Linked DNA regions of Homo sapiens. Changing the gene in region 1 together with any one later gene gives a genetic interaction. Each region holds a gene or a part of one and is shown on either strand. Other genes may lie near its edges.

The links. A genetic interaction does not mean that the proteins touch.
Region 2: of CTBP1 (region 1) and ACTL6B, changing one enhances a phenotype caused by changing the other (phenotypic enhancement), as found in Homo sapiens cells (one study listed by BioGRID).

Annotation. Positions count from the first base shown.
Region 1 is NC_000004.12:1,224,657-1,232,286, reverse strand, and holds part of CTBP1 (C-terminal-binding protein 1), read left to right. Parts: exon of another isoform or gene 1-1,179; intron 1,180-3,943; coding exon 3,944-4,088; intron 4,089-6,720; coding exon 6,721-6,927; intron 6,928-7,630. UniProt on the Homo sapiens protein: Corepressor targeting diverse transcription regulators such as GLIS2 or BCL6. Has dehydrogenase activity. Involved in controlling the equilibrium between tubular and stacked structures in the Golgi complex.
Region 2 is NC_000007.14:100,646,329-100,653,958, forward strand, and holds part of ACTL6B (actin-like protein 6B), read right to left. Parts: intron 3,808-7,630; coding exon 3,710-3,807; intron 2,496-3,709; coding exon 2,401-2,495; intron 2,335-2,400; coding exon 2,228-2,334; intron 1,206-2,227; coding exon 1,116-1,205; intron 957-1,115; coding exon 895-956; intron 758-894; coding exon 643-757; intron 504-642; coding exon 423-503; intron 319-422; coding exon 223-318; intron 25-222; exon of another isoform or gene 8-24; coding exon 1-7. UniProt on the Homo sapiens protein: Involved in transcriptional activation and repression of select genes by chromatin remodeling (alteration of DNA-nucleosome topology).

The sequences.
Region 1 (7,630 bases):
AAAATAAAAACGGGAGAGGTAGGGGTTGGGTATTTTCAATTTGTGTGCCAGCCTAAGGGTGAATGTCTGATAACACTCAGAGCTGGTGCAGGGGCTGTGCCTGTCATCCCAGCGTATCCAGAGGCCAAGGCCAGAGGATCGCTTCAGCCTAGGAGGTCAAGGCTGCAGCGAGTCATGATTACACCACTGCAGTCCAGCGAGGTCCTGTCTGTAAAATAAGTAAATGAAAAAGTTTATATATTCAAAGACTCCTCCCAATCAGTAGAAACAGAAAAATCCCGACAGAAAATGGATGAGGGCGGTGGCGTTTGGTACAGACAGAGCGGTGTATGAGAACCGGGGTGCGCCTCCTGGGTTCTCACAGGTGCAGCAGGCACCGCCGGTAACCCCTGGCCTGGCCTGCGCTGAGCCCTGCACCAGCCGTGCTGAGGGAGCCTGGGCCTGGCCCTTCATGTGGGATAGAAACGGCCGTGCCGGTCTCGATGGTGCTTTGGCAGTTTCTCTGGAAATCTGAAACCTGCGGTCTTCAGCCCAGCCCCACCCTGGGCCTGCATGTGGCTGCGTGTCGTAGAGAAACATCTGCCCTGATGGTGACCTGATGTGAGCAGCAGTTTCACAGAGTAAGCCACCCCTGTGCACGAGGTCTGGAAAGGTAAGTGCGACGTCGAGTCCTGAGCACAGAAGCAGGTGGCAGAACTGCATGGCAGGAGGTGGGCTTGGCGGGCCCCTTCCTGACCCCCAAGAGCCAGCTGCCACCAGGAGCGTCCTGGGGTCTGTTTCCAGCCCGGTGGCAGCCGAGCTTCCTGGGCACCCAGCTTTCCCCAGCCTGCTCTGAGCACTGGAGTTGAGGGCACTGAGCAGAGTGGGGCTGAGCCCCTGGCGGTGGAGGGGACACATCAGTGGGTGTTGGCTTGAGGTGGTTTCTGGGAGGCTGCTGGGCCCCGATCTAAAGGGACACACCTGGCTGCACCCACCTCCTGCAGACTTTCTCCGTGGGAGACCAATGCAACAGGCGGGGTGGAGCAGCCACGTGGCAGCCACGAGGGGGAAAGGAAGGTAGACCCTGAGGCTGAGCCGCTGTGGCACCCTGGCCTGTGGACCTGTGGATGACGTGGCCGCCACGTGGTAAAGCGCACATGCTAGCAGCTGTGGCCCTGCAGCTGAGCACAGGCCAACCTGGTACGTGGTGGAGGTCGGGGCATGGGGTGCCCCAGCCATGTTCAGATTCCTGTAGTGAGAATGCTTTCACCTAATACTATGTTGTTAAACCTGTATTCAGTAGGGAAAAGGGCAAGGACCTGAAAAAAGTGTATTAAGAATCGTGCACAGGCAAGTGATGAAAGCCTCGTCGGGGAGGCAGCTTGCGCTTCACAGCTCAGCTGGGTGGGCGCGCCCGGAGCCCAAAGGAGGGCCCTTGGCCGGCGCACGCTTCGGCTTCTCCGAGCTTACCTAGATGAGATAGATTTTCATCACGGAAGAGCCGATGCAGGAAGCAACCTTAAGGCTGCGCGGATGAATATTCGTCATATTCACGTGAATCTGATCGCTGTCTCCTCCGAATGTGCGGGAGGTGACGTGCCGCGGTTCAGAATCGACTTTTCGAGGCCCGTGGCCAGTGCTCCGGGTGAAAGCAGGCTGTTGCCTGCGTACACACAAGCCTGTGTGGTGTGGGTCTGTCCAGCCTGTCCATGCCGAGCCTCTGCACACACACTGTGGAAGTGGCCCCTGCACATCCAGCTGCCCAGGCCAGCCCCCCGGGCTCACGTCTGGCACCAGGCCTGTCCCTGACCCCAGGGCCCATCTCCCACTGCGCCTCTGCCCACCGCTCGCATGCGCAGCCCCTCCTGCCCACAGTGGGTGCCGACGAAGCTTCATCTGCAGGTGACTCTCTCTTAGCTGCGGCTGCTTTGCCAGGCTGCCCGAAGCACCTCCTTGGTGTGTGGGCGCCCATCTCCAGTCCACGCAGCGCAGGGGTCTTCCTGGCCGCACCGCTCGCCTCCACCACAGCTGTGCACCAGTCGCCCACTGCTGGCCTCTGCCTGCCCATGCTGTCCTTGTGGCCTCACCCCGTCCACACTACGTCTGGTCAAGTGTGGTACACCAGGGTTCACCCCGTCCACACTGCATCTGGTGCACCAGGGGTCACCCCGTCCACACTGCGTCTGGTGCACCAGGGGTCTGCATGCATGCAGCCTCAAAGCCCTCCCAGGAGGCCCGGGGCAGCCATCAGCCCTGTCCATGAACTGATGAGTGTTACACACACCTGTTCCTCTGTGGTCCGGGTAGATGCCTCCCTGCCTCCTGCAGCCGAGGTGCTCCAACCTTCCCTTCTTCCTGGAGAATGCCCAGGCTAGCCCAGGGCTCCCCTCCCCTGCTGCCCAGCCTCTGCTGTGGCCCTGGTCTGTGTGGTCCTCCATGGTCCTCTCCTCTAGGTCCCCTGCGGTGGGCAGGAGGGAAGGGAGGCTGTGCCAGCCTCAAAGGGAATCATCTGTTCTGGCTAAGCTGGAGGTCCGGGCACTGTAGGAGAAGGGGTTGCAGCTGGGTGGTGAGCGTCTTCCTGGGGGCTGCCCTCACCCTGCCCACGTATGCCTGCCCAACACCAGCTGCTCTGCCCAGGACCCAGGCAGGGTCAGCTCCCACAGGACGCCCTGCGGTCCAGCAACCCAGGCACTGCCGCCCGGGATCCACAGGCTCCATGCTCGGCAGGAAGGGAGGGAAAGACGCCACCTAGGCCCCGGCAACCTCTGTGCTGAGCCTGCGCCATTGATCCGTCAGGAGTACCTGGGGCCCCGCTGGACAGGTGGTGGGTGGGAGTCATGTCCACATGGGAGGCTCACTGGTGTCTCCGGGGACTCGGACATGCCCATGTGGACGAGGCCTGCATGTCCTGGTGTCCTCAGCCACGGCTGTTCGCACAGAGCATCTCTGCACCCGTGGGTGGGCGTTGTCATGCACGGGAGTGTGGGATGGACGTGTGCGGGTGGATGTGTTTGGGTGTGGGTGGATGCGCAGGTGGTGCACACACATCCCCACCCTGTGCCCAGTGCTGCACCTGGTTCTTCGGCCTAGGGCACTTCCTCCACCTGTGTGCCTCTGCACCCCACACTGCCCCTGCCCTCCCTGGGCTGGGGGTAACTGGGAGCCCTTGGCAGGGTGGGGTTGGCCGTGACCACAGCGATGCCATGTACTGGCTGAGTGGAGGCGCCAGGGTTGGGCTGCTGTGCTGTGTGCCAGGTCTTTGTTCGCGGGAGCTGTTCCGGTCTAAGAGTTGTCATGGACACTGAAATTAAAAACGTGACTGTTGTGAACACTGCTCAGACCCAAGCCTCGCCAGCCAGGGGCAGCATTTCTGGGCAGGTTCTTGGGCGACACGGGGGCAGTGCATGCTCCTGTGGATGTATCCTTACGGCTGGGTGGCGTCTGCCTGCCTCCGCCGACGTGCTTGTGTGCCGCGGGGACTTACCACTTTCTACCTGCATCCCCGGGCCTGCAGGTCTCAGGTTCCCTGGCCACCCCACCCAGCTGCACCTGCTCAGTGTCCTTCCTGGGTGTGGCCGCACCCCCCCTCCTGTGTCCTCGCCAGGCGGGACCCCGTTTCTTCCACAAGGCTGAGCAGAGTCTCGGTGGGGCGCACGCTCAAAAGGAGACATCTCAGCCACCACAGTGGGGAGCGGGCAACTCTGACCAGTGCCGGCCTGCAGCCTACATGCGGCTGAGGAGGCTGCGGTGGGAATTGCTGGGACTCAGGACGCCTGGGCAGAGGTTGAGGGGCCGCGCGTGGCGGGGAAGCCTTCATGTAGCCTCTCCCAGTGTCCGGGCTGGTGCTTGGGGAACAAGCCTGAGGGCCACAGGCTAATTTCCCAGCCGGGGCAGCCCCACCCCCGAAGGCCAAGCCCGAGGGTCTTCAGGTTCCGGGCTGAGCCTGTGTGCTTTCTCGCTGCAGGTCCTGAACGAGGCTGTGGGGGCCCTGATGTACCACACCATCACTCTCACCAGGGAGGACCTGGAGAAGTTCAAAGCCCTCCGCATCATCGTCCGGATTGGCAGTGGTTTTGACAACATCGACATCAAGTCGGCCGGGGATTTAGGTAGGCCGGCTCCGAGTTCTCTCCTGTGCCCATTCATGCAAGCTCCGTCCCGTCTTGCTTCGTCCATGGAGGCTTCACTGCCACACTGAGGACCCCGTTGCACATTGCCTGGTGTGGCTGGCGGTGGTTCGTGGTCCCGTCTGGGGCCGGCATGAGGTTGCAGCCATTCAGTTCCTCACAGAGCCTCATCTCAGGGCACTTCCTCTCTTTTGGGCAGCAGGAAATCCAGCTGTGGCTTCACACAGGTCTGCATGCATGTCTGGCTGGTGCCCCTTGCTTGGGTACTGGGACCCTGGGGGTGAGGGCAGGGCCGTCAGTGTATGGCTGTAATAGGGCTCATAGGTCTCTGTCCCGAGACACAGCGGGAACAGCAGCGTGTTGCAACCCAGTACGTGTGCACTCAGCACACAGAACACACACGTCTGCACCTGTGCACTCAGCACATGGATCACGCACACTCAGCACACAGAACACACACGGAACACGCACATCTGCATCCGTGCATGTGCACTCAGCACATGGAACACGCACACTCATCTGCACCCATGCACATGCAGTTAGCACACGGATCTTGCACACTCATCTGCACCCGTGCACATGCACTCAGCACACGGATCACGCACACTCAGCACACAGAACACGCACATCTGCAGCCATGCATGTGCACTCAGCACATGGAACACGCACACTCATCTGCACCCGTGCACATGCACTCAGCACACGGATCCTGCACACTCATCTGCACCCGTGCACACGCACTCAGCACACGGATCACGCACACTCAGCACACAGAACACACACAGAACACGCACATCTGCAGCCGTGCATGTGCACTCAGCACATGGAACACACACACTCATCTGCACCCGTGCACATGCACTCAGCACACGGATCACGCACACTCATCTGCACCTGTGCACACGCACTCAGCACATGGATCACATGCTCATCACACAGAACACATGCACCTCTGCTTGTGCACTCAGCATATGGAACACTCATGGAACACGCACGTCTGCACCCGTGCACCTACACGCACATGGAACATGCACATGTGTCTGCATCCATGTACAGACACTCATTAGAACAAACTTGGGGCGGTGCTTGGCCGTCCTGCTTGGAGCGCACTTTCTGTTTTCTGCCAGGCTCGGTCTGTTTTTTCTCCTCCTCTCGATGCTGGTAACAGGCGAGGTTGTACCCTGCCCTTGCCCACAGTTGGCCAGCGCCTCACGGTTTTGCTTCCCTTTTCCTAGGATACAGTTTATGGCATTGCAAAGTTGGAACCGTCTGTGTTCCTGCGGGGGACGCAGGTGGTGTCGGAAGCCATGCCTCCATCTGGGGGTCTCCTGCACTGGCTTCAGCTGCTTCCGCCGGCGCCCATGGGCCAAACCTGTGTGCCAGCCTCCTCCCGCCTTTGTCTCTGTGGTGGCGTCCCAGGAAGGGCCGGCTGCGGTGTCGGGTGCAGGCCTGGGTGTGTGGTGTCGGGTGCATGCCTGGTGCTTTTTGAGGGGTCCCTGCTGTTTACCATCTCTGTTACCCGTGGAGTTTCCCAGGCCTGGGCTCTGTTCTTCAGCCAGGGATGGTCTGGGGCACCCCTGGGATCTGGCCCACCCTCAGGAGGTCTTTGTTCCAATCTCGTGTGGCGCCTGGCTTGGCTCTCCCTCAGTCTCCCTTGTTTAACATTTTTACGTCCAAGTGAGTTGTGTCTAGGGGCTATGCAGCCCCTGCCTGCGCCGCCCCACATCAGGCCCTCTCCCGGCCCCCGGGACCCCTTGCGGAACCACACGGTCCTGTCCAGCTTCCGGGCCTATGAATGCAGCCCTGTCCTGGCCTCCTGCCCCCTCCTCCTCCCCAGGGAGACGGATGGCCAGTCGGACACAGGAATGCAATCATCCGGATGGGGTGGGAAGTGCCGTGCAGGGGCGGCCCTGGCCAGGGACAAGCCAGGGATGAGGGTAAATAGGCTCAGGGAGGGGCACTGGCTGGGGAAGGGCCTGTCTCTGGGGACAAGGCCGGGAGCGGGGAGTAGGGGTCACACATGGGCGTGCCTGGCCACTCGGGAGAAATGGGATGGACTTGCTTTCCAGGAATGGCTCCAGCTTCAGTGTTACCGACTGCAGGGGTGGGGCATGGAGGGCGGAAGGGGCTTCGGGGCCCGGCTGGGCCTGGGGGAGGCCTGAGGACATGTGCGGATGTCCACGTAGGGGTGTGCAGGCGGGGCCGGCACCCAGATTCTGACCTGGCCACAGCCTCCCAGCAGGGTACCCCCGAGAGGAATCGGGGTGGCGAGGTGACGCGGGGAGACACGTGCTTGTCTCTTCCTGGGCTGCCAGCGCTGAGTCGGGAGGGGTCAGGGCAGCGTCTCACACCCCAGCCCTACCACACACCGAGCAGTTGCCGTGTGTGTGCTGCCACGTGAACCTAAAGTGGAGGTGGGGCTCCTGGAGTTGCTCTGTTGCGCCCGACCTGTGAGCAACGTGTTCATCTCGTGGCCTCCCGGGGTGGCCTTGGGGACACGGCCTTTGGCTTCTTCCTTGGGAAGCTTCAAACCCGCTCCAGTCACGGCGGCCCCGGTGTCCTCCCGGAGGCTGGGCCCGGCCCGGGGGTGACCGCCGTGTCCTTGTCCCCACAGGCATTGCCGTCTGCAACGTGCCCGCGGCGTCTGTGGAGGAGACGGCCGACTCGACGCTGTGCCACATCCTGAACCTGTACCGGCGGGCCACCTGGCTGCACCAGGCGCTGCGGGAGGGCACACGAGTCCAGAGCGTCGAGCAGATCCGCGAGGTGGCGTCCGGCGCTGCCAGGATCCGCGGGGAGACCTTGGGCATCATCGGACTTGGTGCGTCGGCCGCAGCTCCACGCCTGTGTCCCTCCCTGTGTCTGGCGCTGCCGCTCTTCAGCTGTGCCCAGGAGGAGAGGCCCGGGGCGGGGTGGGGCTGCTGCAGGTGTCGGTCCCAACCCAGGACAGGACTGAGTGCGCACAGGCACCAGGGCCCGGGAGTCCCAGGCGTGTGCCCTACGTGCACGGACGTCACAGCACACGTGGGTCTCACACAGGCACACACAGATAACGTACACGGATGCCACAGCACACACAGCCTCACACAGACATCACAGCACGTGGGTCTCATGGGCACATGCAGATAACACACACGGACGTCACAGCACTCACATGGGCTTCATGGGCACATAGATAACACACGGATGTCACAGTACACAGCCTCACACAGAAATCAGAGCACACATGTGGGCCTCACACAGACATCATGGCACACACAGACATCACACACCGATGTCACAGTACACATACTGGCCTGCACGGATGTCATAGATGCCACAGCACACATGTGGGCCTCACAGACATCACAGTATACATGACCTCACGGGCGCACACAGAAATCACACATGGACATCACAGCACAGACGTGGACCTCACGGGCACACACAGATAACACAGATGTCACAGCACACAGCCTCACACAGATATCACAACACACCCATGGGTCTCACACTGGCCTGCACGGACGTCACAGCACACAGGG
Region 2 (7,630 bases), on another chromosome or scaffold:
GCATGCTCTGGGGGTAAAAAGGGGCTGGGGGAAGCAGACACCTAGGTTCTGGGAAGGGACAGGGCTTGGGGGAGAGGGGAAGACTTGGGAAGCCACAGGGGCAGGGGTTCTGCTCTGGTGGCCAGAACAGAAGGAAGGACATGGGAAGGATGAAGGGACTCAGTCCTGGACAGCTGAGCCAGGACGGGTGTCCAGGGCTCTGGGTCAGGGGTGGGCTCCTACCGGTGGGGTCTTCTGGGAAAGCTCTCGATTGAGCCTGTCAGTGAAGCCCTGCAGCAGTGTGTTCCCGCCGGTGACAATGACACTCCCGTACAGGCCCTGAGAGCAGGGAGAAGGAGTGAGCTGCGGGGGCAGCCCCCCAACCCCGTCTCCCCACTTCCCCTGGGCCCCTTTGCCGAGCCTCAGCTCCGGCCTGGCCTCACCGGGCGAATATCAATGTCACACATGCCGATGCTGGTGGTCACCACGTGGCCCACACCCAACATGGTGTTCCCCGACAGGCCCTGCAGAGAGAGGTGACTGGGGCTGTGGGCTCTCTCCCCCTTCCCCCCAGACCCCTGCAATCCTTCCCAGCCTCCCCCACGCCCCAGGATCCAGGGACTGCAGCCAGCACCCACCCCAGTCCTCGCCACACAGCCAAACCTTGACGTTCGAGGGATCAAACAGGCCCTCAGGGATGCGGAGTCGCTCGGCGCCGTAGTCTGTATTGTAGCCATTGGGCATCTCGTAGTGCACTGTGGGCATTTGTGCAGCCACCCTACCCAGAAGGGAGCAGGACTCTGCCTGGGGTGCTCAAGAAGGATCAGTGCGTGGGCAGCACCAGAGCCCCCCAGCCCACCCCAAGAGTGCCGGTTCTGCCCTCTCTCCCACCCCAAAGCCCTGAGCCACACTCACTGTTCATCGTAGGGGGAGTCTGAGACCTGCAGCACGGAGGCCTGGAAGTCCTGGATCACCTCCTGAAATCCCAGCGGAGGTGGTGAGGGCCTGCCTTCCCCGTGAGCAGCACCCCCTGCCCCGCTCCCCCTCCCTGCTCCCCCTCCCATGCGGGGCCTCTGTCCCGCCCCCGATTCATGGCAGGGGAGGGGGGTTTCAGGTGGCCCTCTCCAGAGGCTCACATTACACATGTAGTTATGCCAGGACTTGGAGACCTGGGGTAGCTTCTCCTTCTTCTTCCAGTTTGGGGGGGCACCCTCCCGGACAGGCTCCTGTGGGGGCACAGTGTAGGAACACCCTTTCCTAGCCCACCTGACCCCCACCCCCACCTTCCTGGCACTGTTCCCAGCTCTGCAGCTACCTGGCGCTGCAGGCTCTGCTGTGCTGCCTGCAAGAGGGGTTTCTCACCCTTCCCTGATGGAGAGGAGAGAGAATGGGGCATGCCTCTCTCTCCATGTGTGCCTTTCATGCGGTGGGTGCAGCTGATCTGGAGAACACCAGGAATACAGCAGTGACAGAACCTCAAGGGAATGGCCTCCTAGGGGGTCATGATCCATGTGAGGGCACGGAATGGAGCTAAGCACACAGTGTCACTTCATACTCACAGCACCCTGGCTACTGCCTACTGCCGTTCCACTTTACATAAGACAAACCTGAGGCCCAGGGAGCTTTGATATCATGCTGTTGGTCACACAGCTCTTTTTTTTTTTTTTTTTCAGATGGAGTCTCACTCGGTCGCCCAGGCTGGAGTGCAGTGGCGCGATCTCGGCTCACTGCAACCTCTGCCTCCGGGGTTCAGGTGATTCTCCAGTCTCAGCCTCCCAAGTAGCTGGGACTACAGGCATGCACCACCATGCTTGGCTAGTTCTTGCAGTTTTAGTAGAGACGTGGCTTCACCATGTTGCCCAGGCTGGTCTCGAAGTGAGCTCAAAGCGATCTGCCTGCCTCAGCCTCCCGAAGTGCTGGGATTACAGGTGTGAGCCACCATGCCTGACCGGTCCTGCAGCTCTTGCACGGCAGAGGCAGAACTTGAACCTGGGTCTATATTGGACCCTAGAACCCACCACACTGGCCCTCACACATCCTGCTGTCTGCCAGCTGGTTTCATGACCTCAGCATATCCCTCAGCCTGTCTGGATTTCGGATGCCTCGATTATAAAAGGAGGAACTGGAGCCAGGACCCACTGGGGAGCCTGCTGCTCTCTGCTCTGATATCTCATGTGTCAGAGGGTTGACGGCCATGGGGCGAGTGGCCAGGACTCTAGTGGCAGCTCCATGTCCCCAGAGGCCCCACCTTGGCTGCGATCATGTAAGGTGGGATGATGTCAATGGCCATCTCCTGGAACAGCTCCCGGCACTGCATGGAGATGAAGTCCCCTGCCAGAGGGGACTTGACGATGCCTAGAAGGAAGGCACTGTCAGGACCTGGTCCTCCTGGAGCACCCCCACCCCCTGCCGAAGCCCCACCTTGCTGCAGAACGTAGCCGTCATGTACTGGAATGGCCGTGGTGTGGGTGGCTCCACTGTCCAGCACGAGGCCAGTGGACCGCCCGTTTGCAAAGCTGGCATCGGATGGGTAAGTCAAAGAGACAGCAGCAGCAAGTGAGGGGCCTGGGCCCAGATCTTGTCTGGTCACTCTCTGCTCTACCGGGGTCCAGCCCATCCCCAGTCTGCAAATCTCTCCCCCTGGTGATGACTCATCTCCTGGAGAAAGGCTCTGAGACCCCAGTTACTTCTTTTTTTTTTTTTTTGAGATGGAGTCTTGCTGTCTCCCAGGCTGGAGTGCAGTGGCGCAATCTCAGCTCACTGCAAGCTCCGCCTCCCGGGTTCATGCCATTCTCCTGCCTCAGCCTCCCGAGTAGCTGGGACTACAGGTGCCTGCCACCACGCCCGGCCAATTTTTCGTATTTTTAGTAGAGATGGGATTTCACCGTGTTAGCCAGGATGGTCTCGATCTCCTGACCTCGTGATCTGCCCGCCTCGGCCTCCCAAAGTGCCGGGATTACAGGCATGAGCCACCACACCCGGCGACCCCAGTTACTTCTTTAGTTATTTTTTTTTTTTTGAAACTGAGTTTCGTTTTGTCGCCCAGGCTGGAATGCAATAGCTCACTGCAACCTCTGCCTCCTGGGTTCAAGAGATTCTCCTGCCTCAGCCTCCCAAGTAGCTGGGACTACAGGTGCCCACCACTATGCCTGGCTAATTTTTCCATTTTTAGTAGACACGGGCTTTTGCCATGTTGGCCGGACTGGTCTCTAACTCCTGACCTCAAGTGATCTGCCCGCCTTGGCCTCCCAAAATGCTGGGATTACAGGCGTGAGCCACCGCGCCTGGCCAGCCCCTTTATTTTTGGTTGTGTCCTACAGATTCCCTGAAATTAGGGTCGCTATCACCCCAGTGCATAGCACAGGGTTCAATGCAAGGCAGATCCTAAAAACAGTCAGTGTTGAAGGAGTTCTTGGGAAGGGACTGCCGCAGTGTTCTACACGTCTCCCTCCTCTGTCCAGTTCCAGCCCCTACTCTCTCCCGGGCCCAGCTCACTGTCTGCTCAGCCTGATCCGGGGAACCGAAAGGGGCCGCTGATCTGGCCACCCCAGAGTCGGAGGTGCTCAGTCCACTGGGCCTTCTGCACTAGTGGGGCAGAGGGAGGTGTCTGCCCATTGGGACACTGATCTTCAGAGAACCAGGCCTGACCCTCCAGCTCATCACAGCTGAGCTCAGCACAGGCCCCACCCCAGCCCTCCACCCAGTCAGAGCAGCTCAGTCCAGAGGATACGCGGTGAGCACAGCCGTCTTGCATAAGAAGAAGGCAGGAATGTTGTACTGCTCGAACATCAGCTCTGTCAGCTTCTCCCGCTTGGCCCGTGTGTTCCACTGTGGAGAAAGTGCAGAGGGGGAGGATTCAGGAAGGGAGAGGCACAGACCCACATCCACGCACACGCAACCCACTCACTCACACATACACTCACGGTCACACACACACATCCAAACACTTGCACACACATACACAACCTAAACACTCACACATACACTCACGGTCATACACACATGCATTCACTTGCACACACACACACATACACTCAAACACACACACATACACTCACATTCACAGACACACATAAACACACACATGCATTCACACTATACATACACTCACGGTCACACATGCAAACACACTCACAAACACACGGTCAAACACATATATACTCACATTCACACACAAACTCACACACACACATACACATATATTCACACTCACAGTCACACACACATGCATTTAAAACATTTGCACAGGCCAGACAGGGTGGCTTACGCCTATAATCCCAGCACTTTGGGAGGCCGAGGCAGGAGGATTGCTTGAACCCAGGAGTTCGAAACTAGCCTGGACAACATAGTGAGATGCTGTCTCATTAAAAAAAAAATTTAAAGTAAGGAGCTTGTGGGAATTAAAACTACATGAACAGAAATGAAAAACTCAATAGAAGGATTGGAACATAAAGTGGAGGGAATATCTTGGAAACCAAAGGAAAAAGGTAAAGAGATGGAAAATATAAGAGAAAAGGGAATTAAATTAGGGGACCAATTCAGGGGGCAACAAAATCCAATAACAGAAAATCCCAAGAGAGAAAATGGAGAGAAATAAATAATTAAATAAATAATTCTTTTTCACTGAATTGAAAGACATATGTTTTCAGAATGAAGAGACATACTAAGTGCCTAGAGCCATGAATGAAAATACACCACACTGAGGATAAAGTAAAAATTCTATAAACTTTCAGAAAGAAAAACATTACATCAGAGGATCAGAAATCAGATGGTTTCATCCTTCTAAATGGCAACGATATATGCTGGAAGAAGGACAATGGAAAAGTGCCTTCAAGATTCTGAAGAATAATGATTTCTAACCTGGCATGGGATACCTAGCTAAGCTATCAACTCAAGGTGAGACACACAAAAGTCTCAAAAAATATACTTCCCATGACCTTATTTTAAATTTTTTTTTTAGATGCTGGGCGCGGTGGCTCATGCCTGTAATCCCAGCGCTTTGGGAGGCCAAGGCGGGCAGATCACCTGAGGTCAGGAGTTTGAGACCAGCCTGGCCAACATGGTGAAACCCCGTCTCTACTAAAAATACAAAAATTAGCCAGGTGTGATGGGAGGTGCCTGTAATCCCAGCTACTTGGGATGCTGAGGCAGGAGAATCCTTGAACCCGGGAAGCGGAGGTTGCAGTGAGCCAAGATCACGCCATTGCACTCCAGCCTGGGGGACAAGAGTGACACTTCATCTCAAAAAAAAAAAAAAGTTTTTTTTTAGATTATTATTTAATTAATTATTTTTTTAAATGGAGTCTCACTCTGTCGCCCAGGCTGGAGTTCAGTGGCATGATCTAGGCTGACTGCAATCTCTGCCTCCTGGGTACAAGCAATTCTCTTGCCTCAGCCTTCCGAGTAGCTGGTACTACAAGCATGCACCACCATGGCCAGCTAATTTTTATATTTTTGGTAGAGATAAGGTATCAGTATATTGCCCAGGCTGGTCTCAAACTCCTGGACTCAAGGCCTCCCAAAGTGCTGGGATTACAGGAGTGAGCCACTGTCTCTGGCCTCTCATGACCTTTCTAAGGCAGTTACTGAAGGACCTGCTCCATGAAAACAAAGGAATAAGTCAAGAAAAGGAGTCAAGTACAGGAAACAGGACTTCTAACCAGGACAGAGGCAAAAGGATTCTACAAGATGATGGTGAAGGAAGATGCCAGCATGACAGGTCTGTCCCCTGGCAGAGGGCTACTAGTGCAAACTGGACCAGGTCAGTGGGCTCCTGAAGAAATTTCTTCAAGAAATGAAATTGATGAGAGGCCAGGTGTGGTGGCTCACGCCTGTAATCCCAGCACTTTGGGAGGCCGAGGCCGGCGGATCGCGAGGTCAGGAGATGGAGACCATCCTGGCTAACACGGTGAAACCCCGCCTCTACTAAAAATACAAAAAATTAGCCGGGCGTGGTGGTGGGTGCCTATAGTCCCAGCTACTTGGGAGGCCGAGGCAGGAGAATGGTGTGAGTCCCAGCTACTTGGGAGGCTGAGGCAGGAGAAATGGAGCTTTCAGTGAGCCGAGATCGCACCACTGCACTCCAGCCTGGGCAACAGAGTGAGACTCCATCTCAAAAAAAAAAAAAAAAATACAAAAAATTAGTCGGATGTGGTGGTGGGCACCTGTAGTCCCAGCTACTCGGGAGGCTGAGGCAGGAGAACCCAGGAGGTGGAGCTTGCAGTGAGCCGAGATCGCGCCATGGCACTCCAGCCTGGGCAACAGAGCAAGACTATGTCTCAAAAAAAAAAAAAAAAAGAAATTGATAAAATATCTAATGGAATTGACGTCTTGACAAAAGATACAATTGATGAATGATTTAGGGTTCACACTGTTAAGTAGATAGAAAACCAGACCAAATATAATCAAACACAGGGCTGGGATGGTGGCTTACGCCTGTAATCCCAGCACTTTGGGAGGCCAAGGTCGGTGGATCACGAGGTCAAGAGATCGAGACCATCCCGGCCAACATGGTGAAACCCCGTCTCTACTAAAAATACAAAAATTAGCTGGGCGTGGTGGCACGCACCTGTAGTCCCAGCTACTCAGGAGGCTGAGGCAGGAGAATCACTTGAACCCGGGAGGCGGAGCTTGCAGTGAGCTGAGATCGCACCACTGCACTCCAGCCTGGTGACAGAGCAAAACTCCGTCTCAAAAAAAAAAAAAAAAAAAAAAAAAAAAAAAAAAAAAAAAAAATTGAACACATTTTTTTTCCAGTTCTAGGAAAACAAAAAGTTGCACAAGAAAGGAAAGGTGATCATGGTGTATTGCCTGTCTCAGGCCTGATTAGCATACATAGTAATAGGAGTGTAAATATTGGGCTGAGCACAGTGACTCATGCCTGTAATCCCAGCACTTTGTTAGCTGAAGTAGAAGGATCGCTTAAGCACAGGAGTTTGAAGCCAGCCTGGGCAATATGATGAGACCCCATCTCTGCAAAAGATTCTCTTAAAATTATTTCTAATTTAAAAAGAATGTAAATACTGAATACTGATTTCTTTTAAAGTCTAAAATACAACTGGGCTGGGTGTGGTGGATCTCGCCTGTAATCCCAGCCTTTTGGGAGGCCGAGGCGGGCAGATTGCTTGAGCCCAGGAATTCAAGACCAGCCTGGACAACATGATGAAACCCTGTCTCTAAAAAAAATTTAAAAATCAGCTGGGCATGGTGGCTTATGCCTGTAGTTCCAGCTACTCTGGAGACTGAAATGAGAGGATCACTTGAGCCCAGGAGACCAAGGCTGAAGAATTGTGCCACTGCAATCCAACCTGGGTGACAAACTGAGCAGACCCCCTGTTTTTGAGGCAAAGTCTCAAAAACAAACAACAAACAAAACCCCAAACAACAACAACAACAACAACAAAACCCACTGTACTTAAAGGAGGGTGATAAGAAATACGTGTGGCATAGGCTGGGGAGGAAAAGAGAGCTAAGCGATCATTTTCTAAAGTGGAAAATTCAGCGATAATACCTAAAACTAAACACTCCACAGGCAGCAATTTAAGTGTAGTATTAGAGATATGGAAGAAAATACCCCCAACATTAGCTAAAAAGGAGAAAAACAGTTGCTTTTATAAAGAGGAATTTATAAGGAGGTGGGTAAGAACATTTT